Linked DNA regions of Homo sapiens: regions 2 and 3 are each linked to region 1. Evidence: fine-mapped expression QTL. A gene starts in region 1. Each other region holds a variant in brackets. All regions are shown on one strand. Distances are between the middles of the regions.

The links. PIP is the estimated chance that this variant, and not a neighbour inherited with it, causes the effect.
Region 2: its variant is fine-mapped to the expression of SUGP2 in whole blood (TOPMed, PIP 0.91).
Region 3: its variant is fine-mapped to the expression of SUGP2 in skeletal muscle (GTEx, PIP above 0.99).

What each region holds. Positions count from the first base shown.
Region 1 is chr19:19,026,945-19,036,396 of GRCh38, forward strand. It overlaps SUGP2 (SURP and G-patch domain containing 2), which reads right to left and starts at 6,573. Exons shown (of 11, transcript NM_001017392.5): 1 at 6,493-6,573; 2 at 4,007-4,138. The coding sequence starts at 4,127. ARMC6 (armadillo repeat containing 6) reads left to right here and starts at 6,659. Exons shown (of 9, transcript NM_001199196.2): 1 at 6,659-6,986; 2 at 7,187-7,294. The coding sequence starts at 7,266. RefSeq lists an enhancer at 5,305-5,806 and silencers at 5,733-5,812, 6,233-6,662.
Region 2 is chr19:18,989,391-19,000,028 of GRCh38, forward strand. SUGP2 (SURP and G-patch domain containing 2) reads right to left here. Exons shown (of 11, transcript NM_001017392.5): 9 at 5,754-5,890; 10 at 4,976-5,096; 11 at 1,503-4,350. The coding sequence ends at 4,976. Among named protein-coding and RNA genes, the nearest start is that of SUGP2, 39 kb to the right of the region's middle. RefSeq lists an enhancer at 497-997. The variant G/A (reference allele first, on the strand shown) is at 5,384.
Region 3 is chr19:19,132,982-19,138,289 of GRCh38, forward strand. TMEM161A (transmembrane protein 161A) reads right to left here. Exons shown (of 12, transcript NM_017814.3): 2 at 1,803-1,906; 3 at 149-229. Among named protein-coding and RNA genes, the nearest start is that of TMEM161A, 2.8 kb to the right of the region's middle. RefSeq lists enhancers at 4,879-5,308, 5,225-5,308. The variant A/G (reference allele first, on the strand shown) is at 1,981.

The DNA of each region.
Region 1 (9,452 bases):
GGAAACTGAACAGTGCCCAATTCTGTCCTTCTCCATGTAGAAAAGGGGAAATGGGCCAGGCACAGTGGCTCAAACCTATAATCCCTGCACTTTGGGAGGCCGAGGTGGGAGGATCACTTGAGCCCAGGAGTTTGAGACCAGCCTGGGCAACATAGCGAGACCCTATCTCTGTCAAAAATAAAAAAGGGCGGAGGGGAAGATGTACTTGCATTTGCTTAATCACACATGGAGAAACTGTAAGAAGCGAGGAAGAGAAGTGAACTACGGGCATATGAGAACAGTGGGCCTCAGGGAGAGTTTTCATGGAATGCCTTTCTTTCTAGCTTTTCAATCAGAATCGATGACCTAGTTAAAAAAAAAATCAAATGAACAGGGAAGGAGAGGTGCCAGGAGGTAGCAATAGGTTAAGAGGCCACAGGAAGCCAAAGTCGTATATAAATCCTAGTTCACTTGTTCAACAAGTACAAACTGGGCACCTACTGTGCGCAAGCACTGTACTAGGCACTGAAGTTACAGCAAGAAAATGAGAACTCTTCCAAACTTGTCAGTTGAGAGAGCCAGACAATAAACAAAAATATATCAGATGCAAGTTAAGTACCAAGAAGACAAATCAAGCACGTGGGAACCTGAGGAGGCAATGACATTTTGAGACAGGCTAGTCAAGGAGGGTAGCTCTGACACTTTTTTTTTTCTTTTTTTTTTTGAGACAGAGTCTCGCTCTGTTGCCCAGGCTGGAGTGCCGGAGTGCAAGGGTGCGATCTTGGCTCACCGCAACCTCCACCTCCCAGGTTCAAGCGATTCTCCTGCCTCCGCCTCCTGAGTAGCTGGGAATACAGGCACCCGCCACCATGCCCGGCTAACTTTTGTATTTTTAGTAGAGACAGGGTTTCACCACATTGGCCAGGCTGGTCTGGAACTCCTGACCTTGTGATCCGCCCACCTCGGCCTCCCAAAGTGCTGGGATTACAGGCGTGAGCCACCGTGTCACGCTGCATAGCTCTGACACTTTATCTAGCAGCAGTGGCCTGGCATGAGGAGCCAGACCGTACAGTTACAAAGGGAAGCCTTCCAGGCAGAGGGGGAATGAGGACAAGACCCTGAGGTGGGACCAGTAGGGGGCCAATGTAGACAGAAGGGAACACAGGGAATGAAAGGCCAAGTGGTAGGAAGGCAGCTCCCAAACTCTGCTACTGGAGCCCCAGGGACCACCTCCCCAGACATTCTTACTTAATTAAATAAGGGGATGACCTGGGCATCAGGGTTTTTAAAAGGCCCCCAGGTGACGCTAACGTGCTACAAAGTTAGGGAACCACTAATATAAGAGACACAAATGGAGAAGGAGTACCAGATCCAAGTCGGGCCCTCAGTGGTACTCTGGAATTTACTCTGGGAGAGACAGAAGGCTAGTGAAGAGTTCTAAGCAGAGGGATGATCTCACTGGCTGCTGCACAGGGAACAGATTAAAGGAGATGAGCACAGACGTGGATGTTCCTGCAAGAAATCCACTGTGATAACCCAGGTATTGATGATTGGTATTGATGGCATGATTAGGGAGGGAACATTAGTGACAGAGAGTGATGGCTGGATTCTACTCAAGAGAATTTTCTCATACCCTTTATGAGGAGATGAAAAGTTCAGAGTGGAGCAGAGAAACAGAGAAAGGCTAAACGATAGACTGCTTTGCAACACAGAAATGTTCCAGAATCACCTAGCATACTGCTAGGTTTCTAGTCCTCTCCCACCCACGGCCCCCTAATCTGTCTTTTTTTTTTGAGACGGAGTCTCGTTCTGTCACCCACGCTGGAGCGCAGTGGTGCGATCTCGGCTCACTGCAACCTCCACCTCCTGGGTTCAAGCTATTCTTCTGTCTCAGCCTCCTGGGTAGCTGGGATTATAGGGGCCTGCCACATTTTTGTATTTTTAGTAGACACGGGGTTTCACCATGTTGGCCAGACTGGTCTCAAACTCCTGACCTCAGGTGATCTGCCCACCTTGGCCTCCCAAAGTGCTGAGATTACATGTGTAAGCCACTGCACCTGGCCGTCTTTTTTTGAGACAGGGTCTCACTCTTTGGCCCAGGCTGGAGTATAATGGCACAAACACAGCTTACTGCAGCCTCGACTTCCTGGGCACAAGCGAACTTCCTGCCTCAGCCTCCCAAGTAGCCAGGGCCATAGGCGCATGCCACCATGCCCAGATAAATTTTTTTTTTTTTGAGACGGAGTCTTGCTCTGTCACCCAGGCTGGAGTGCAGTGGCACAACCTTGGCTCGCTGCAACCTCCGCCTCCTGGGTTCACGCCATTCTCCTGCCTCAGCCTCCTGAGTAGCTGGGACTACAGGCGCCCGCCACCACGCCCGGCTAATATTTTTAGTAGAGACAGGGTTTCACCGTGTTAGCCAGGATGGTCTCGATCTCCTGACCTTGTGATCCGCCCGCCTCGGCCTCCCAAAGTGCTAGGATTACAGGCTTGAGCCACTGCGCCCGGCCATTTTTTTTCTTTTTTTTTTTTTGAGATGGAGTCTCGCTCTGTCGCCCAGGCTGGAGTGCAGTAGCGCAATCTTGGCTCACTGCAGGCTCCACCTCCCGGGTTCACGGCATTATCCCGCCTCAGCCTCCCAAGTAGCTGGGACCACAGGCACCCACAACCACACCTGGCTAATTTTTTTTTTTTTTTGATTTTTAGTAAAGACGGGGTTTCACCATTCACAGGATGGTCTCGATCTCCTGACCTTGTGATCCTCCCAGCACTCTGGGAGGCCGAGGCGGGCAGATCACAAGGTCAGGAGTTCAAAACCAGCCTGACCAACATAGTGAAACCCCATCTTTACTAAAATAAATACAAAAAAATTAGCCGGGCATGGTGGCAGGCACCTGTAATCTCAGCTACTCGGGAGGCTGAGGCAGGAGAATCGCTTGAATCCAGGAGGCACAGGCCGCAGTGAGCCAAAATCACGTCACTGCACTCCAGCCTGGGCGACAGTACAAGACTCTGTCTCAAATAAAAAAAAAAAAGAACTAGTAGAGCTTAAACCTGGGCAGCGGTGACAGGGATGGAGCCAGGAAATGGATCCAAGAACCTGTCTTGGGGCTGGGAGCAGTGGCTCACGCCTGTAATCGCAACATGCTGAAGGCAGAGGTGGGAGGATCACTTGAGCCCAGGAGTTGCAGACCAGCCTGAAAACATAGCAAGACTCCATATCTATTAAAAAAAACAAAAAACAAAAAAAACAAAAACATAAAAAACACCAAAAAACAAAACTGGGCTGGGCTCGGTGGCTCATGCCTGTAATCCCAGCATCTTGGGAGGCCAAGGCAAGTGGATCACCTGAGGTCGGGAGTTCGAGACCAGCCTGGCCAACATGGTAAAACCTCATCTCTACTACAAATAGAAAAATTAGCTGGGCGTGGTGGTGCATGCCCGTAATCCCAGCTACTCAGGAGGCTGAGGCAGGAGAATCGCTTGAACCCAGGAGGCGGAGGTTGCAGTGAGCCAAGAGGCGGAGGTTGCAGTGAGCCAAGATCCCTCCATTGCCCTCCAGCCTGGGAGACAAGAGTGAAACTCCGTCTCAAAACAAACAAACAAACAAACAAACAATAAACAAAACTGTCTTGAGGTGGGTCGGGGAGGATATCCAGTGAGAAGCTCCAGATAACTACATAATGATGACTGACAGATCAAAACATTATCCCCTGACCAAGTGCAGTGGCTCATGCCTATAATCCCAGCACTCTGGGAGGCAGAGATGGAAGGATGGCTTGAGCCTAGGAGTTCAAGGGTGCAGTGAGCTAAAACTGCGCCACTGCACTTCAGCCTGGGGGAGAGAGTAAGACCCTATCACAAAAAAGAAACCAAACCAAAATAAAAACCTTTACCTCCTCCTAAATAAGGAAACTAAGGATCAGAGGACTGGTATTATTTGCCCAAGGTATTGTAATCTTCCTGCCTTGGCCCTAAGATACACCCCTACCAAAACAACAACTACAACAACAACACTTTATTTTACCTTGAGCTTTAAACTGAAGAGTTTCGCTTACAGCCTCACCACTGGCATCCATGTGATATCGTTTGGCTTTTTCTTGTAATACAGCATCAAAAGTCTCCTGTGTAATTCGTCTGGCTGCCATGTTATTTTGCCCTATGGTGAGAGAGAAAAAAATACACTAAGAGCAACAACTTGGAGCTGGGCGCGGTGGCTCATACCTGTAATCCTGGCACTTTGGGAGGTCGAGGTGGGCGGATCACCTGAGCTCAGGAGTTCGAGACCAGCCTAGGCAACATGATGAAACTAAAATACAAAAAATTCAGGCTGGGTGTGGTGGCTCACACCTGTAATCCCAGGACTTTGGGAGGCTGAGGTGAGCGGATCATTTAAAGTCAGGAGTTGGAGACCAGCCTGGCCAACATGGCAAAACCCTGTCTCTACTAAAAATACAAAAATTAGCCGGGCATGGTGGTGCCTGCCTTTAATCCCAGCTACTTGGGAGGCTGTGGCAAGAGAATTGCTTGAACCCAGGAGGCGGAGGTTGCAGTGGGCCGAGATCATGCCACTGCACTCCAGCATGGGTAACAGAGTGAGACTCCGTCTCAAAAAAAAAAAAAAAAAAATTTCACCAGGCATGGTGGCACGTGCCTGTAATCCCAAATACTCAGGAGGCTGAGGCATGGGAATTGCTTGAACCAGGGAGACAGAGGTTGCAGTGAGCCGAGATCATGCCACTGCCCTCCAGACTGGGGGACAGAGCGAGACTGTCTCAAAGAAAAAAAAAATGCGTGCTCACAGAACCTGCTCTATTTCACTTAATCCTCGAAGTAAGGAGGCAGTAATCCATAATCCTCGCATGGTACTTCAGAGGCAAGCTGGACCCTTTTTATTTATCTTTTTTTTTTTTTTTTTTAAGTAGAGACAGGGTTTTGCTAGGTTGGCCAGGCTGGTCTCGAACTCCTGACCTCAAGCAATCTGCCCACCTTGTCTGGACTCTTTTAAGGGGGTCTCTGCCCTCACGAAGTTCACAGGTGTGTGCTGGCTGAAAAGGAGCAAGACAAACCTTCTCTGGGCCCATCTCCTTGGAATCCATTAAAAGCAGCTCTGTGAAAGCAGTTCTATCTGCTGGAGGAAGGTGTCAACCAACACACATAACTGAGCATAACAGAGTAGGAAGGGTGGGACCACAACCCTCGCAAATCGTGGTTAGGAAAGAAGAGATCAATCTTTTTTTTTTTTTTCTTCCTTTTTTTGAGACTCTCCCTGTTGCCCAGGCTGGAGTGCAGTGGCATGATCTCGGCTAACTGCAACCTCCGCCTCCTGGACTCAAGCAATTCTCCTGCCTCAGCCTCCTGAGTAGCTGGGATTACAGGAGTCCGCCACCGCATCCGACTAATTTTTATATTTTAGGTAGAGATGGAGTTTCACCATGTTGGCCAGGCTGGTCTTGAATTCCTGACCTCAAGTGATTCGCCCGCTTCGGCCTCCCAAAGTGCTGGGATTCCAGGCCGTGAGCCACTGCGCCTGGCCCAGGATCACTCTTTTCCCATTCACAGACTCAGCAGGGCACAGAGGCTCTGAGAACTTCCTTCCCTTCTAAAAGAAGCCTCTTGACAGTGAGTGGCGGGACCCCCAACCAATGACAATGAACTAGTGACAGTTCATTCTGCGCTGGGTCCTTGCGCGATCTCCCAACCACCCACTGAAGAGGCGGGTCCTGTTATGAATGACATTAGGGTGAGGAGGCAAAGGGAGACAGACTCAACGACCCATTCAAGACCAGACAGCCCAGATTTGAACCTGGCAAAAAGGGTATTCGTGCATCCAAAGCCCCGAAGAATGAGTAAAAAGATTAAGCAACATTTTGGGGTCCAGGGGCTGCATCCTTAACCATCAAGATATCCCGCTTCGCAAAACCTCCAACTTCAAGAGACAACCCGTAGGGTCCATTTCCCATCACGATCACCGCCTCCCCCACCCGCCTCCCCCAGTCCCATCCTTCAGCCCTTTTCCCGGGGCGCCCCCTTGTTCTCTGCTGGCAAAGGGCAGGGTTCCCGGGTCAGGTGACCCAGGTTCAAATCACACGATTCTAAGCTTTCTGTGCTTCCGTTTCCCCACCTATGGAATGGGCAGCCAGTAAAGGGGCTGGTGTGGGGGCTGAACCGGTTCTAAAGAGGGCAAGGGCCCGATGCAGCGCTGGGCGCCGTTATCTCCTCCCGAGCGGGGGCCGCTCCGAGTTCGGGAGGAATGAATGAACGACTGAACCAATGAGCCTTTGTGGACGCGGCCCGCCGTCTCCCGGCCTCTGCGGGCGAGGAAATGGGGGCGCCGGGCCCGGGAGGCCGCAGCCGGCCACCCAGGCCAACCCGGCGGGGACGCGGCCGCCGCCGCAGCCAGAGGGCCGAGCCTGCGACGCCATCACGGAGCCCGGGGCGGGCCCCCAAGGCCGAGCCCGAGCTTCCCACCCCGGGAGCCACCCACCGACGACGCCAGGGCCCGGGCCTCACCCCGAGACCACCGCGCGCGGAGCCACCCCCGCCGCCGCCTCAGGCTCCTCACCCGCCGCCGCCGCCGCGCGAGGCGGGGACATGCAAATGAACCAACGGTCTCCGCAGCGCCGCGCCGCGCAGGCGCAAGCCGCCGCCGAGTCCTGGTGCGCAGGCGCGGGCCGCCGCGGCCCGGCTCTCTTGCGCAAGCGCGCTGTCCGCTTCTTCTGGGCGGACGCTCTGGAGGCAAAACATTTCCCTGCTGGGGGCGGCGACCACCGTGAGCGTCCCGGAAGGGGCGGCAAAGACGCCTCCGTCGCGCACGAGGTGGCCTCGTTGGCTTTACCTTGGTTCGCGGTCGTCCTTGGTTATCGTGAGCGTCCGCGAGTCTCTGGGAGGCCAAGCCTAGGGGCGCCACAGCGCCTGCGCGCGTACGGCGGCCGGAAGGGGCTAGAGGCGGCTCCCTGGGTGACAACCGCGCGCCCCACCTTTCCCCACGTGGCCGCGAAGACCGGGTGAGACGCTGCGGCTGCCGAGGCCTGTCCCGCGCGGAGTGGGGAGTGGGGGTGCCGCAGGGTCGGGCTGGCGCGACCCTCGGGTACGTGGTTTGGGGGGAAAAAAAAAATGAAAGAATTTTACAGAAGCCGCCTGGGGACAAAATCCTCGGCTTCCCTGGCATTCGCTTTATTTTCATTCATTTTATTTATTCATTCAGCACCTGTGCACTGAGTGCCTGCTGCGTGTCGGGCCCCGTCCTAGGCAGTGGGGACAAGGAGGCTACAGGGTACAAATAAATGAGTGAACGATGTTGCTCTAGATACAGGTAATGGTGTGCAAATAATAACAGAGTGATGGGACGGGAAAGCAGGGCTGCTCTTTATCTAGAAGTGGTTTTGAAGGCTGTCTCTTGAGTGCTGGGAAGGATGAGAAAGGCGGGGAAGAGGAACTTGGAAGGCTTAGATAGAGAAGGTGCGGATAAGGAGGCTGGGTTTTGTTCTGAGAGGGTTGGGAAGCCACTACCGGGCTTTGAGCACGTGAGTGAGGTGGAGTCTAGGCTCTGGGAGTGGCAGGTGACGCCGCCCTTAGGGGAGGCTGGTGTTTGAACCAGAGTGGGTGTGGCTGGTAGAGGGACATGTGGATGGAGTCTTTTAGAGTCCCCAGCATGTCATGGCACACGTTTAATTTTCTTTTGAGACGGAGTCTTTCTCTGTCGCCCAGGCTAGAGTGTAGTGGCATGATCTTGACTCACTGCAACCTCCACCTCCCGGGTTCAAGGGCTTCCCCTGCCTCAGCCTCCCGAGTAGCTGGGACTACAGGTGCGCAACACCGCACCTGGCTAAATTTTGTATTTTTTTTTTTTTTGAAACGGAGTCAAAAGGAGTTCAAGCGATCTCCTGCCTCAGCCTCCTGAGTAGCTGGGATTACCGGTGTGCACTATCTTGCCTGGCCTTTTTTTTTTTTTTTGAGACGGAGTCTCGTTCTGTCACCCAGGCTGGAGTGCAGTGGCGCAATCTCAGCTCACTGCAAGCTCCGTCTCCTGGGTTCAGGCCATTCTCCTGCCTCAGCCTCCCGAGTAGCTGGAAATACAGGCACCCGCCACCACGCCCGGCTAGTTTTTTTGTATTTTTTTAGTAGAGACGGGGTTTCACCGTGTTAGCCAGGATGGTCTTGATCTCCTGACCTCATGATCCGCCCGCTTCGGCCTCCCAAAGTGCTGGGATTACAGGCGTGAGCCACCGTGCCCGGCCCTGGCTAATTTTTTGTATTTTCAGTAGAGACAGGATTTTGCTATGTTGGCCAGGCTGTTCTCAAACTCCTGACCTCAAGTGATCTACCCGCCTCAGACTCCCAAAGCGCTGGGATTATAGGCCTGAGCCACCGCACCTGGACAGCACAGTTTTCTTGATGAGCAGATTCCTGGCTGAGAGAAGGAAACTGGCTGCCAGTTAGGGGCCTTACTCATCTTCTGTTTTACCCTCAGCATGCCCTGATGGATAATAGGGACTGGTAATGCTGCTTCCCCCTTTTAGCCTAGGCTGTTCTCCAGGTAATTCTTACTTGGCCATCTCCAGGCACCATCTTATGTGTTCCAAATCTGTACTTTCCTCCTCCAACTCAGCCCTGTACCAGATCTAGGGGACCTTGGAGGACTCAGGTCAGGGGTGGTCACAGAGCCAGACCTTCCCAACTCAGTCAGCTCAGGGGTGGGTGGAAGGGAGGGGTTGTGGGTTGGGGAGTGAAGCCAGAGAGTGTGGGCTCTCTGAGTGGCCAGGAAAGGCAGCCACCTGGAAGGGCTGGCAGAAGCTCCACAGAGGACTGAGAATCCGAAGTATTTGAGACAGGTGTCAATCAGTTAGAAAGCTTATTTTGCCAAGGTTAAGGACATGTCTGTGACACAGCCTCAGGAGGTCCTGACAACATGTACCCAAGGTGGTTGGGGCACAGCTTGCTTTTATACATTTTAGGGAGACGTGAGATATAAATGAATATGTGTAAGATGGTCACAGGTAGAGACAAATGATTGCTTTCTTTTGAGTCTTTGGTCAGCCTTTCACAGAATACACGATTTATATGGGGTACAGGGCAGGTAGAGGAATAGTCATTTATGCCTCAGTCCGACTCATGAATCTGAGGTTTTGTTTCTTGTTTTTTGTTTTATTTTTTGAGATAGAGTCTCGCTCTGTCGCCCAGGCTGGAGTGCAATGGCGCAATCTTGGCTCACTGCAACCTCCACCTCCCGGGTTCAAGCAATTCTCTTGCCTCAGCCTCCTGAGTAGCTAGGATTACAGGCGCCCACTACCACGCCCAGTTAATTTTTATATTTTTAGTAGAGACGGGGTTTCGCCATGTTGGTCAGGCTGGTCTCGAATTCCTGACCTCAGGTGATCCACCGGTGTCAGCCTCCCAAAATGCTGGGATTACAGGCATGAGCCACGGAGCCAGGCCAAATCTGCATTTTTACATAAACGTTAGGGCAGAGA
Region 2 (10,638 bases), 37 kb before region 1:
GTCCTGTCATTTGTTTTGACTTATGGGAGGAGAAAGCCTCTGTGCTCCATTCCGCATACATCTGGGTTTGGTTTTTCATCTTTTACAAGGAAAACGTCCTCGCGTGCTGCTTGAACATGCATGCGCGCACATCTGTACGTGGGCATGCATGCACAGCAAAGGCCTGGACTGAAGCCACACCTTGCTTTTGCTACTGGGGCTTCTTGGCAGCGCCTTCTGCCTGTCTTGCCCCAAGGAAGCTCCAGGGAGGAGAAAGGCCATGACAGGGATCTTGTGGTTCCACTTAGTCCTAAATTATTAGGTTGGTGGAAAAGTAATTGAAGGTTTTGCCATTACTTTTGCACCAACCTAGTACAAGGCAGCAGGGGAGATTTTACCTTCCAAATGAGATCCTTCCCAGTCTGTAGAGGGGAAACTGAGGCCTGAGATCAAGTGACCTGCCTGGGTCAACGCCAGGACAGGCATCCTGGGCTGGACACCACTCCTCCTGTCCTCCTAAGACACCCTGACCGGCCTTAGGGTGATATTAAGAGGAACTAGGGGAAGAAGGGTTCCACTACTGAAGAGAAATTCCTGGTGGTTCCTCACCCCCTGCAGGTGAGCCCCACATTTTCCCTGCAGGCTCCGGCCTTTCTCAGGGAGTGCCACTGAAGCTAGCGGTTAGACATCGCTAAGATGAAGGCAGGGTGAGGGTCTTGGCTGGCAATAGCTTCCCCCGGGACACGGTAGAAGTGAGGCTGGGGGTCCTGCCTCAGCTTCCTAAGGGCTCTGTCTCAAGGCTCCCGCTAAGCTGCCCACAGGGACCTTTCTACATGAGCATCACCTGCCCTGGGCACAGTGCCTTCCCCCTCCCTGCAGTCTGGCTCCTCCCCTCCTCACCCTGGTCAGGCAGAGGCCCCTGCAGGCCCCCTGGGTGCTGCCTTGGTCTCTGCTGTGCCCTCTGCACGCCCCTCCTCACCTGGAGGGCCAAGGGGCTGTTGACAGAGGAACCATGGGCAGGCTGGCAGCACCCAGGGACAGCAGGGAGTGTGAAGATGACAGAGAGGCAGCTCTGCAGTCAGAGGGTGGCCCAGGCAGGCTCTGGTTTTACTCTGGCAGCTGGAACCCCAGCCCTGGGATGATGGGGCAAAGCCCTGTGGGGACAGGTGAGTCGTAGGCAGCAGGGGCACAGCTCCCACTGCCCTGACACCCCTCAAAGGCAGCTTCTGTACTTGGCGGTACCGATTACCCTCCCCAGCCTCCCCAGAAGGGAATTGCCCTCCCTCTGGTGGGTGCTTGGTCCCTTCCTGCTCTCTGGCATCTTCCAAGCTTTCCTGGTGACAGTGACACAAGGTCCCTCAGGTGGGGCAAGCCAGTGAGGAGGGGCCCGAGGGAGGAGCACCACGCCGGCGGAGGGCACGTCCTGGGAGGCAGCCATCATCTGGTTCTACACTGCACTCCCATCTGCGTGCGCTGGTGTCTGATCTGATTTTAAAAACACAGCCATGGAGACCCCAGCACACTGCATTTCCTCTACATTTATTGCAACGGCTAAATGATTAACAACATTCACAACTTCTTAGATCTTAAAAAACAGAAACAAAAGAAAACTTCCATTTTGTAACATCACAAATGTCTTCTAGGCTTTATCAAGGACCAAAAACACTACAATTCTCTAAGTGATTTCCAGTGATGGAAACAAGCCAGAGACAGTAAAGCACCCAGAGTGGCGAGAGAGCACTTCCAGATGCCTGTTGTCCTCTCGGGGGTGACCCTGGAACTAGAACGACAGAAAAGACACTGTGACTTTGACACGGCTGTGCCACCACACATCACGCGCGACACGAGGATCCTGCAGAGCGGCCTCTGCAGAGAGCAAGGACAGCCTCGGTTAAGAGGGAGGGGCTGGGGGCACGGAGGGCCAGTGGCATCTCCTCTATCCCGGCTGGCCGGCAGCTGGCAGCACGCACCATGCTCTGCTGGCTCCCGACACCTTCACTGCCCCAGCGCTGAATCCACAGGAGAGGTGTCCTCTGAGAGTGTAGGGGGCTTTCTAGGTTCAAGGAGATGTGCCCTTTGACCCCTGCCAAGGACTCACAGAACCATCTCAGCTCAAACTTGGAGGAGCGGCAGGAGGTGGGGGGCGGTCAGTGGCCACACGCCACAGATTCCTAAAGCATTTAACTTTTTAATAAAATGAAGTGGAGAAAGTCAAGAATGAACATGCTAGGACAAAGCACATGGAATGGTCAGGGCGATGCTGGAGAGAGTGCGCTTGATCCACGCTGCAGGTGTGTGCGCCTCGCTCGGGTCAATGGGCTGAGCCCCGCTTGGAGCTCCATCCATTCACCTGACCCATGGCCAACATGGAAGCTGTCGGAGGGGTCAGGAAAGGAGAAGGAGAAAGGAGAAGATGAACCCCCCGCACCTGTGACTCCCCAAAACCAGCTCCACTCCAGGCCCCCACAGGCTGGTTCGTTCGAGGGTTGGGTTATAAACCCAAACTCCATCCTCCATGCTGGCACCTCTACTGCCATAAAGATCTGCCAGTTGCCAAAGCTACAGAAGCCACTGGAAGCAAGCAGAGCCCCTGGGGGTGGTGGCACTGCAAGGTGACAGGGACCAGGCAGACAAGGAGCTGGGACCACAGCCTAGGAAGTCTGTGGCTTAAAGAAAGCCAGGATTTCCTTTTTTTTTTTTGAGACAGAGTCTCGCTCTGTTGCCAGGCTGGAGTGCGGTGGCACAATCTCGGCTCACTGCAACCTCCGCCTCCCGGGTTCAAGTGATTCTCCTGCCTCAGCCTCCTGAGTAGCTGGGACTACAAGCGCCCGCCACCACGCCCAGCTAATTTTTTGCATTTTTAGTAGAGACAGGGTTTCACCATGTTGGCCAGGATGGTCTCGATCTCTTGACCTCGTGATCCACCTGCCTCGGCCTCCCAAAGTGCTGGAATTATAGGCGTGAGTCACCGTGCCGGCCTTTTTTTTTTTTTTTTTTGGAGATGGAGTCTTGCTCTGTCGCCCAGGCTGGAGTGGAGTGGCATGATCTCAGCTCACTGCAACCTCTGCCTCCCCGGTTCAAGTGATTCTCCTGCCTCAGCCTCCTGAGTAGCTGGGATTACAGGTGCCCGCTACCACGCCTGGCTAATTTTTTTGTATTTTTAGTAGAGACGGGGTTACACCATGTTGGCCAGGCTGGTCTCAAACTCCTGACCTCAGGTGATCCATCCGCCTCAACCTCCTAAAGTGCTGGGATTACAGGCTTGAGCCACTGTGCCTGGCCCAAAGCCAGGATTTCTTTACAGCCAATACAAGTGGCATTTCCCGCTCAGTTCTGTGGCTGATGCCCTAGCCACTGCTGTGTCCCCTAATCCTGGGGTGTCAGAGGGATCCTAAGTTTTCCAGATTTTTGCCCATACTTAAAACTTCAACGATCCTGCTTCACAAGGAAGGATGAGTGGAGAATTGAGTGGAGTTACACGCAGCAGAGTGCTGGGGAATCTGGAGAGCGGGGGCGATCACATGCCTGGAAATAGAGCAGCTGCAGAGCCCACCCCAGGAGGAGCCTGCCTCTCCTTACAAAGGCTGTAATAAGACAGCACTTGACGATGCCATACGTGCGAAAAGTGCAGAGTCTCAGAGGGTTTACAACCCCCATCCCTTTGTAACTGTAGTTTGCTTACACTGTGGATTCTAAAGAGACATGTAAATCTGGGGCCGATTTCATCTGTTTAATGATTACTCCCCACCCGATAGAGCTATTCTATACTGTTGCTAAAATTTCATTAAGTCTCTCAAGATGCATTGATGAGATGAGACACCATGAATAACACATTCATCAACTCAAGTATGGCAACTGTTCAGAGAGCTTCAGAGCTTTGGTACCCGAGTGCAGACTTGGTAATTACCGGGAATTTGTCTCCCCCGTATAAATTCTGGCGAACAACGAGAAAACACCATCTGTGATCGTTTCCACATCACGTTTGCTAACAGAGCACTTCTGGAGAGCAATGGCCAGTCCAACTGGAAAATCAGCCAGAGGAGCTGGTTCCTCAGCACTCACAGGCTGAGGTGCCTTTCGGGGGCAGCGCCACCTTCTGAAGGGGAACCAAGACAGATTTGGAGGGGACTTGCTGCTAAAAGCATGTGAACAGAGAGGAGAGGCAAAAGCACATTGAAAATGGTGCATGTTTTTTTCTTTGAGAGAAAGAAAAGCCAGCGAAACCTCCGCCCCAGAGACTGCAGAGACGTTTGTTTTCATGTACACACCAAACCGTACTTGGGCACTGGCTCCAGGCCGATCCAGGGCAGGGATGATGTTTTAAGGGCAATTGCTGCTTCAAGGCTTATCTTTCACATCAGTGGTTTTGATCTATTCAGGAAGAGAACGATTTTGTTCAAAACTGAGGTGGAAATTAGGTGAGGGGGCAACTAAAAAAAAAAAAGAATAGAAAGATGAGGATATTTACAGGCCCAAGGCCCTGCAGAAGGAAAAGGATTTGAAGACCCTCACAAAGGGACACAGCCAACTGCCATCCTCTGTGGCAGTGGCTGTCACAGTCGCCCTTCCACTTGCATGATGGCAAGGCCCTCTGGACTAGGAACAGTCCGTTTGCTGGTCATGTTATGTGGTAGGTGGCTGTCATCTGTGAGAGAAAACTTGAGCAAGAGAAGAGACAGGCGTGGCCTATTTCCACACGCACATCCACGGAGGCTGGCCTGGAGGCCTTGAGGGGCTCACAGCCGGGGCACCAGGCAGGCCATGCGCATCTGCCCTTGGCCAGTGTGAGGTTTGCTCCTTCAGCAAACCTGGAAGGTAAGAATGGGGCATATCCACATCCATAGACCCTTTTGTTTCCCTCACAGAATTTTGTGATTTTTTTTGTGTGTGGCATTTTTGGGGGAGCAGGGAACATCAACTTTGTTGGGGGAAATTTCTCTGCATACCAGCACGCCAGCGAGGGCAGACGGCCTTACACACTGGCCTGTGAACATACCTATTTGTTGGCCCGCTTGTGTCTGTACATCTGCATCATCCTCTGTCGGAACACATCGAATGTGTCTTCTTTGTGCTCCTGCCCGTCAGCACCCAACCCTTCCCCTTCCGAGGGGGTTCCCCTAGGGAGTGAAAAAGAGAGTCAGTTGTGCACCTGAGCCCAGGGCCTGGCATGCCAGGAACTGGGCATGGGCACAAACAGTCCATGAGATGCAGGTGTTTGGGACACACACTGAGACATCAAAGAAAGGGAAAATCAAGACGCGACTCACAGTAGAAACAAGGAGTACTCACCCTCGAAGAGCTGGCTTTTGAGGGGGTGCCCAGAGGGCCCTGGTTACCTCGGAATGCCTTACCCAGCAGGAACTAAGCTCAGTATTAAATGAAATGCCTGCTGGAGGTTATGATC[G/A]GGGTTTAATAAACTTTGGGCCTGTGTTCGGGACCCTGGCTGGCCCGGCTATGGGTTCCCGGGAATGGGAAAGCAGTTCCAGACGGAAACTACACAGAAATACCACTTAGCTTTTATGATGGTCACAAATGTGGCCAAAATGACCAGGGCCAACAAGCTGGTTAAAAAATCTACACCAGGACAGAAAGGAGCCCTGTAAACACCTGCACATGTAAATGATCAGCTTCTCATCTGAAGATGCCTTCTGTTTAAAAAACAAAAATCAACTGCCAGCTGTAAGCCATCTTGGCTGTGAAGGAGCCAAGCGGCAGGCTGCAGGTGGAAGGACTGAGGCCCCACCCACTCCCACCCCAGGCTGCCTGCTGCGTACACGCTGACCGGCTCCCTGATGCCCTTTCCGAGGGAGCCCAGGCCATGGCCCTCCTTCCAGCCCATCTTCTGCAGCATCTGGAAGCCCAGGTTCTTATCGGTCAGCTTCTGCTGGGCGAAGTCCAAGTCCTTGGGTTTCTGAGGAGAGAGGAGAGTCCAGGCATGTGGGCCACAGGGAGATGCCTGGATCAAGGGTCTGTCCTAGGCTATGCCTGGAGCCCCTCACCCCCAAATGCCCTCCTGACTCCCCAGATGCTCAGGCTCAAGCTCCAGTCACTTCCCCAGTTCTCTGCAACATCCCTGGGTGGGATGGAACTTCTAAGTCAGAGGTCACTGGCCTGAGGTCAGTCGTGCCTCTCAGCTACCACTATAACCCTGGTGCCAAGACTGTGAGGAAAACTGGGTAAGGGAATGGCCAGTCCCGGGGTCAAGGAGTCAGTAGGAAGGCCCTCAGCGGAACCCTGGATAAAGAAGGGTGGCCCTGTGATGACCACAGGGCGCAGCCCAGGGAAGAGTGGGGGGCACCAGGGCACAGGCCTGCAGGCAGGATGGGGGCCAGACAGTGGGTGAGAACTGGCTGGCAGCACCCTCCCTGAACCACCCCAACATACCCCTCCCCGAGTGCTTCATTCACTCCCTGGCTGCATTGTCTGTCTGTCCTCAGGACTGAGTTCTACTTGGACATTGGGGTCTGTGTCTAGCACAGAGCAGACCTCACTGAGAGCTAGTACAGCTGTTGATTGCTCCTGTGGGTGGTGGGGAAGTGCAGCAATCTCTGGGCCACTAGATGGAGATCTGGAGACAGACAGGGCCCTGGGGCCTCTGGAGGAGGAGCCTGCAGGGCTGTAGCAGAAGGAATTTCTATTCACTCATGAATATTCATGACACACTGCTGTGTGACAGAGCCCAGCTGGGCAGTCCAAGACCTTGCCATGTATTCCTTGGCTCTTCACGAGTCAACTTGTGTGGGTGGGCTGGGCGTGGTGGCTCATGCCTGTAATCTCAGCAGTTTGGGAGGCCGAGGTGGGTGGATCACTGGAGGTCAGGAGTTCCAGACCAGCCTGGCCAACGTGGCAAAACCCCGTCTCTACTAAAATACAAAAATTAGCCAGGCATGGTGGCAGGCACCTGTAATCCCAGCTACTTGTGAGGCGGAGGCATGAGAATCGCCTGAACCTGGGAGGCAGAGGTTGCAGTGAGCGGAGACCGTGCCACTGCATTCCAGCCTGGGCAACACAATGAGACTGTCTAAAAAAAGAAACAAAATACAAAACTTGTGTGTGTTTTTTTTAAATATAGAGTCTTGCTATGTTGCCCAGGCTGGTCTCGGATTCCCGGCTTTAAGTGATCCTCCCACCTCAGTCTCCCCATTAACTGGAACTATAGGTATGTGCCACTGCACCCAGCTTTTGATGTTTTTTTTTTTTTAAGACGGAGTCTTGCTCTGTTGCCCAGGCTGGAGTGCAGTGATGCAATCTCAACTCATTGTAACCTCCGCCTCCTGGGTTCAAGCGATTCTCCTGCTTCAGCCTCCCGAGTAGCTGAGATTACAGGCGTGTGCCACCACGCCCACCTATTTTTGTATTTTTAGTAGAGACGGGGTTTCGCCATGTTAACCATGCTGGTCTTGATCAAACTCCTGACCTCAGCTGATCTGCCCGCCTCAGCCTCACAAAGTGCTGGGATTACAGGCATGAGCCACTGCGCCTGGCTGATGTATTTATTTAAGGCATTTACTGAACGACCTGGGGAGGCTGTGAGGGTTCATGTGCTCTTGAGAGGGAGGGAGGAAGGTGCTGAGGAGGATCACGGGGGCTGGTGCTGGGGGTCTGAGCAGGGGACAGGTGGGAGTGGCTGGGAGAGGGTTAGATGACCCTGGGCATGGGAAGCAGGGTGAGAAGGGCATGCTGAGTGCTGTGAGCTCAGGTCTTTGGGCAGTCAGCCCTCATCAGCTTAGCAACCTGCCCCATGATGTCATGCAGGCCTCACGAGGTATAATTCAACCAAAAGACAAATCCCCCCCTTGCCATCTGCATTGAGGTGCCCAGGAATCAGCTTCCCTAACGTTAGGGGTGCATGTGGGAGGCACTCCAGAGACAAAGGAGCTTGGAGACAAGGCACAAAAGGCTGAGCCTGGGGGAGCCAGGGGCTGGGAGAGGAAAGGGAGAAGGGAGAGAGCAGGGCCTCAGGTCAGGAGGGAGGGAGGGAGGAGAGAGCAAGTGCTCCCATAAGGAAGGCCTGGGCCTCTGGAGCTCCTGGGGCCTCAGTGTTCTCACCCTAGAAAGGGACAAAACAACCTGGAGAGGTGCTGAGAACTCAACATGCAGCAAGATGTAGGGGGTCAGAAACGGATACCCTAAGGCTGGGCGCGGTGGCTCACGCCTGTAGTCCCAGCACTTTGGGAGGCCAAGGTGCGTGGATCACGATGTCAGGAGTTTGAGACCAGCCTGACCAACATGGTGAATCCCCATCTCTACTAAAAATACAAAAATTAGCCAGGTGTGGTGGCACGCCCCTGTAATCCCAGCTACTCTGGAGGCTGAGGCAGGAGAATCCCTTGAACCTGGGAGGCAGAGGTTGCAGTGAGTTGAGATCATGCCATTGCACTCCAGCCTTGGCGACAAAGGGAGACTCCGTCTCAAAAAAAAAAAAAAAAAAAAAGAAAGAAAGAAAGAAAGCGATACCCCGAATTATAGCACTTTGACAGGTGGGACTAAAGTAGCAGCCTCAAGGTCCCTCCCAAAGCACAGGAGGAAGCTGTTTTCTTCAAGTTCCCTATCTACCTAGAAACTGGACTTGCCAAAGAAGAACACAAGGGCCTTGGATCCCTTCCCTGAAATGTCATTAACCAGAGTTGAAAACTCCTATCACACAAGAAGAGATGGAACATTAAACACCACACCTAGAGCCCAGACCACTGGCTGTTCTCTAGTCCCATTCAATTCTCAATGAGGATCATTCACAAGATGATGCCTGCCTCCATTCATCTCTCCTAAAATCATCTGCTTCCCCTCTAAAGTTACCTACAGCCTCCCATCTGCCCTCTCCCCTACAAAGAGGTATTTCAGCTTCAACCACCTGGCCCTTCTTTGAGTTTTCATAATGTTTTATATGGCTCCTGTGCTTATGCACGTGAATAAATATGTATAACTTTTTTGTTTCAAGACAGGATCTTGCTCTGTCACCCAGGCTGGAGTGCAGTGGCTCCATCATGGCTCACTGCAGTCTTGAACTCCCGGGCTCAAGTGATCCCCCTGCCTTGGCCTTCCAAAGTCCCGGGATTACAGGTGTAAGCCACCGCACACCTTTTTTTATCCTGTTAATCTTCTTATTGTCAGTTCATTTCAACAGGCTTAGACTTGGACCTTCAAAGGCGGAGGGAAATTCCCTTTGTTCTCTTCAGAGGCATCTCCGAGGGTATTATATAAAGTAGCTGTGTGTGTGTATGCATGTGTGTGTGCGTGTGTGTATGCATGTGTGTGTGCATATGCGTGCACATGTGTGTATCTTGTGTGTGTGCGTGAGTTACTGGATGCAGGCGGCCCCTCCATAATGGCATGAGGTGGTCTTGGTGAGGCGGTGTGGGCAGAAGTGTCTCTGCAGGGCAGTTAAGGAGGGGAGGTATGAAGGGAGGAGCTATGCTATGGGCTGGGACAGGAAGAGGGGCACAAACAGTGAAGAGACACCCCTGCAAACCAGGGGACACCAGACAGGACCTGCTACACTGGGGGGCCCCTTGCCATGAGAAAGTGGCCTGGAGAAAAGAGGTGACAGAACCCACCGGCTGAGATGAGAAACGGGGCATCCGTCAGGCCCTTCTGGGAGCTGTGCACGACCTGGGCCCTGGGATGACGGGTAGGGAAGGAAGGGGAAAGGCTGGTCATGGCAGGGCACAGGGGTCCCCAGAGGGCAGGTCTGTACTCTTTTCCCTTTCAGGAAGGCTGCTTGGAGGTGCAGTGGGAGGAAGAGGGTTTGGCTCAGCCTGGAAGTTTCTTCGTGAATGTTCAAATCTGTGTTTAACAATCATGATGGTGGTTTCCTGGACAGCTGGAGGAAAGCCAAGCCCTGTGGGCGAGGTGGAGGTTTGCAGAGGAAAGCTGCAGCCACCACGGCCTCCCTTCCACCCACAGTCACTGGCAGACAGGAGGACAGGTGCAGAGCCCCAAGGAGACAGCAGCATGTGCAGGACACCCACCAGGAACCGCGTTCAGTTTAATCCTCACTGTACCTCCTACCTGCTGGGTAAGTGTGGCCATCCCATTTTACAGACAAATCCGTGGCTCAGGGGTTACACGCCAAGGTTACAAAACTACTCGGTGGCAGGGCTGAGCTAGAGTACAGCTGTGCCTGACACCAAGGTCCTGCTGTGCCCTCATCTGGCCGTGCCCTTATCCAGGCCACACCAAGGGGCACCAGATGCCAGCTCAGCCTAAAACCTGGCACATCAGTAAGGACTATGAGCTCTGGACTCGGGAAGGTCCCTCCTTCCTGCCATAATTGGGGTCAGACTGACCTAGGTCACTCGGAAGGGGTTGGAAGCAACATGGCACTGCCTGACACCAGCAGAGCGATCTCGCCTGGCTCCCCGCCCTCCTCCCTGACCATGAAGGACTGGTGAAGTCTCTCCACATGTGTCCCAGGTGACCCTGCTTGCCCCCAGCACTGTGTCCCCCAGGCCATCTGGAGTGTACCTGCCCCCTTTCCATAACCTGGCTCCAGGTCAGTGAATGGCAGTTCTGTCCCTCTTCTGCCCAAGCTGACAACCCTGGGGTCATCTGGACTCCTGGCTTTTGCACACCCAGCCCACAAGCAGGTGTCACCCACTCCATCTTCTCCCCTTCTCATTGCTCCTCATGCCCTGGTCCAACTGTCTTAAGTTTGAGCCT
Region 3 (5,308 bases), 100 kb after region 1:
CCCGGTTCACCTGTGCCCAGATCAGCGCCTGGAAGTATGGGTGGGCCGGTCCTGTGTCCCTGAGCCCAGAGCCCCCTGAGCAGGGGTGAGGCCGTTCCTGGGGAGGAGCCACCCTCCCAAGGCTGGGGCTGGGGCCCAGGTCACTCACCGCTCTTTCCTGCCTCTGGGCCTCGGCTTCCCCGCCAGGGCCCGAAGCTCCTCCTCAGACGGGTGCTTGTATCGGAACAAACTGAGAGCAAGGACGGGCAGTCAGGGAAGCTCAGGCGTGGGGTTGGGAGGTTGAGGCAGTGAACCCCAAATCCAGGGATTCTAGTTAGAGGGTAGCCTAGGCCAGGGGAACACTGGGAGGTAGGTGAGGGTACAGCATGGGGAAATTCTGGGGAAATCGTGAGACCAACAGATCTAGGCTGAGTGGGCTCCGGGGGCTTGGATACCCCTGAATCTGCTGGCTAACTCTCCTGGGGAAGCCAGTGTGTGCAACTTTTCTTTTCTTTTTCATTTTCTTTTTGAGACAGAGTCTCCCTCTGTCACCCAGACTGGAGTGCAGTGGCATGATCTTGGCTCACTGCAACCTCCACTTCCCCGGTTCAAGTGATTCTCCTGCCTCAGCCTCCCGAGGAGCTGGGACTACAGGCATGCGCCACCATGCCCAGCTAATTTTTGTATTTTTACCAGAGACAGGGTTTCACTATGTTGGCCAGGCTGGTCTCAAACTCCTGACCTCAAGTGATCCACCCGCCCCGGCCTCCCAAAGGGCTGGGATTACAGGTGTGAGCCACCTCGCCCGGCCTTTGTTTTTTGTTTTTGAGAGAAGGCCTTGGTCTGTCGCCCAGGCTGGAGTACAGTGGCACCATCTCAGCTCACTGCAGATTTGACTTTCTGGGCTCAAACGATCCTCCTGCCTCAGACTCCTGATTAGCTGGGATCACAGGCGTGAGCCACCATACCTGGCTAATTTTTAAAATATTTTGTAGAGACAGGGTCTTGCCATGTTGCCCAGGCTGGTCAAGTGATCCTCCCACCTTGGCTTCCCCCAGTGTTGGGATTATGGGCCTGAGCTATCATCTCTGACGTGTTTTTTTTTTTTGCCTTTGTTTTTGTCACATACATTTTTCTCAGGAGAGAATTCAGTTGCCACCAGATTCTCAGAAAGCATCACAGACCCACGCAAGGACAAAAACCAGAGCAGGCGAGCTCTAGCAGATGCAGGGGTGGAAGGAAGGCTGGGTTACAGGGAGGCAGGAAGAGTGAGGGACGTGGGGAGTGTGGTGATGGTTCCACACATGTGTACACCTGTCAAAACTAGTCCAACTGTGTACTTCAAATATATACAGTTTGTGTCAGGCATGGGAACTCACGCCTGTAATCCCAGCACTTTGGGAGGCCAAAGTGGTAGGATCGCTTGAGCCTAGGAGTTTGAGACCAGCCTGGGCAACTTAGCAAGACCCCATCTCTATTAAAAATTTAAAAATTGTCTGGGCATGGTGGCGCACACCTGTAGTCCCAGCTACTCAGGAGATTGAGGCAGGAGGGTCACTTGAGCCCAGGAGGTTGAGGTTGCAGTGAGCTATGATCAGGTCACTGCACTCCAGACTGGGTAACAGAGTGAGACCCTGTCTCTAAAAAGAAAAAGAAAAAACAAATATATGCAGTTTGTTGTACTTCAATTACACCTCAACAACGTTTTTCCCCCCACCACCCACCAACCAAAATCAAGGCTTTGCAATTTGTGAGGCGGGGCGTGGGGAGCCAGAAGGGGGCGTGACTCCGCGGGCCCCTCCCACCGCCGGGGCGGGGCTCACCTGCCGTTACAGAGCAGCCAGCGCGCGAAGGAGCAGTGTGGCGCCAGCCTGTGCATGAGGGTGGCAGTGAGCAGGGTCACCACCAGCTGTACTCCGAGGACCGCCTGGGGGGAGGGGACATGACTGGCAGCACCTGCCAGAGGGTCACAAGTTCCCTCCCTCCCTAGGAACCCAGGCT[A/G]TTTATAGAGAAGTCAGGCTGGATGGGGGAAGGGCGAGCCTCTTAGGCTCTAGCGGCTTCTTAGGGGAGAGTCCTGGGGTGAGTCTGGACTCACCTAGCATGGCCCTGCCCTCCCACGTCAGAGATCAACACCCACCCTCACCACCTAGCGGGAGTGTAGGGCAGTGGAGACCATGGGATTTGCCTCCCGCCTCCGCTATGGATTCAGGTATAATATTAATTTCCCGGAGTCTCAGTTTTCTCATCTGGAAATGGGTGCTTCCTATGTAGTCTCCTGTATTCCTCACCACCACCTTCCAGCCCCTAACCACGAGCCCGCCACACTCAGTGAAAGCGGCTCCCACCGCCTTCTGCACCCCACACTGTCACCTAGGGAGCCACTGCGTCTCGGTTGAGCTTCTAGCTTTCTCCTTCACCTGGTAGCTCCTTCCCCTAAGTGTCTCCCACCTTAAGTGATCCCTGATGGTTCCATCACCCTCCTCCCTCTTCTTCCCTTTGTAATTAACCTCCTTGAAAGGGCGTCTATGCTCCTGGCCACCTCCTGTTTTGGTGTGAAGACCTACATGTCTGAGTGGGGTGAGCTTATTTATTTTTATTTATTTATTTATTTTTTTGGCAAGGGAGTGGTGGGGAGAACAGGGTCTTGCTCTGTCACCCAGGCTGGAGTGCAGTGGCATGCTGGGGTGCTCACTGCAGCCTCAACCTCCCAGGCTCAAGTGATTCTCCCACATCAGCCTCCCTAGTAGCTGGGATTACAGGCACTCGCCACCATACCCAACTAATTTTTGTCTATTTTGTAGAGACAGGGTTTCTCCATGTTGCCAGGCTGGTCTTGAACTCCTAGGCTCAAGCAATCCTCCTGCCTTGGCCTCCCAAACGGTTGGGATTACAGGCGTGAGCCACTGTGTCCGGCCTATTTTTATTTTTATTTTTAGAGATGGGGTCTTGCTATGTTGTCCAGGCTGGTCTCAAACTCCTGGGCTCAAGTGATCCTCCCACCTCAACCTACCGAGTAGTTAGGACTACAGTCATGTGCCAACACACCCAGCTAAGGCTTTTTTTTTTTTTAATTAGGAATTTTCTCACCCAGTTCTTAATTCAGAACACATTTTCATATACTTATTTTTAAACGTTTTAGAAGAATCAGTCTGTGGTGAAGCTGGGTTTTCCTGCTTGAATGCAGTAAATACCCATTTGCTGCCAGTAATTACATAATTATGTAAAATTATGTGCTCAGGAGAGCTGTCTACTAGTGTTCTGGAATTATCATCAAAATGAAATAAAGTTTATTTAATAGTAAAATTAATTATGAAAATAATCCTTTAATCAGGCATAAATAAGCTAAATTTAGTCGGAAAAACCCTAATGTGATGGGTACCGGGCCTAGCACGGTAATTCAAAATGACTGCTGAGGCCAGGTGCGGTGGCTCGTGCCTGTAATCCCAGCATGTTGGGAGGCTGAGGCGGGCTGATCACTTGAGGTCAGGAGTTTGAGACGAGCCTGGCCAACATGATGAAACCTTGTCTCTACTAAAAATACAAAAATTAGCCAGACATGGTGGTGGGCGCCTGTAATCCCAGCTACTTGGGAGGCTGAGGCAGCAGAATTGCTTGAACCTGGGAGGCAGAGGTTGCAGTGAGCCGAGATTGTGCCACTGCACTCCAGCCTGGGCAACAGAGTGGGACTCTGTCTCAAAACAAAATAATAATAATAATAAAATAAAAATACATAAAATAACAGACTAATAGGACATTTTCTCTGTACCTGTGACTTGTAAACTGAGACCAGAAATCTTTTTTCAGTAATGAGGTTGGTGGCGGCATCTTTCTCATCTCTAAGTCCTCATTGCTCGCCCTCCCCGGGACCCTAGTGCAGACTGGCTGGCTGGCACTTAGGGACCATGAGTGCCAGCCCATGGGCCCCTGCAAGCCAGTGGGTCAGGGCTGTTGAAGCCCCACCCTTCCCCTAGGACCCTGCCCTCCCACCCCCCAGTCTGTTTTTCTCCTCTCTCTCCGACCTCTCTCCTGTGACCTGCCAGGGTTTTAACCACCCAATCAGCCAGCCCATCAAAACCTCAGCACGGTGACACCTCCAGCCCAGACCTCTCTGCTGAGCTCAACCAGTAGCCTCCTCCAGGCTCTCCTGGGAGACCCTAGCACTCACCCATCATCCCATACCCTTCCAGGTGGTTCAGGCCCTTCCCAGTCTCACAGTCAGCCCCCAACTTGGTTCTGCACCCTGCAGGCATAGCTAGAGACCATCCCTCCACCTCCCCACAGCTCAGCTCTCTCCTCAGCCCTCCCTGCACCCAACCACTGGAGTCTCAGAGGTCTTCCTGGACCTTTGGGCTCTTCATCAATGACCCCACCACCCCCCAAAACCCCCCAAGGGAAAAGGTGGTGGAGGGGTGCATCTCTCCACCTAAGGCTCCCAGAGGTCTGTCCAGGGATGTTCTGATGGCCCTGCCCTCCACCCAGCCTCCTGTCTCAGGGTCAGGGCTCTGCAGACATCTGCAAGAATTTTCTGGAGTCTTCCATCAGCTCCTTCTTTTCCCTTCACTGGATTTACGATTCTCGAACTCAAGAACCCTGATAAAATCAATGCAGCCTCCCTCCTCATTCCCGGGAGCCTGTGCCTTCATCTCCTACGGCGTCCTGCACCTCCGCCTGGGACGACGCCCCACTTTCAATAATTCCGGCCATCAGTGCCCTTCCTTCAGGGCCATCTCCAGCGCCCCTCCTCGGGGATGGTCCCAGGCAGAGACCCTCCAGTTCCACGTCCCTCTCTCTGCCCAGGCCGGTCCCGTCAGGGTTGTGGGAGTCCCCCATCTCCCTGCACCAGCCTGACCCCCAGGGGCTGGGCTAAGTTTTAAGAACACACTCAATAGGTTGGACCCAGAGCCGCGTGAGACCTGAAGGTTCCAACTTTCCTGTCTCCCACTCTGAGAACCTTGCCCGCCCTGAGGCCAACCAGACCTCCTGAGTCCACCTCCCACGGCCTCCCCTGCCCGTTCCACACACCCCGATATAGCAGGGACCCCCGATGGATCCTGTCGGCGCGGCCCCCACGCTCCTGCAGGACCCCCGTCCCCAGAGTGGACCCCCAACAGGACCCCACACCGCCTTAACCAGGTTCCAAATGTGCTGGGGTCCCCAGTCCCCTCTGTGGGACCACGACCCCTCAAAAGGATCCCAGACCCCTAAAAGGTCTCGAGGGCAGAATCCCCAGAACGCTTAGGGGCTTCTAGTCCCCCTGGGTACAACTCCCGCCGACTCCCTCGGAGGTCCTGTAGCGAGAGCAGGGCTCCCAGAGAGGGACACACGGCCT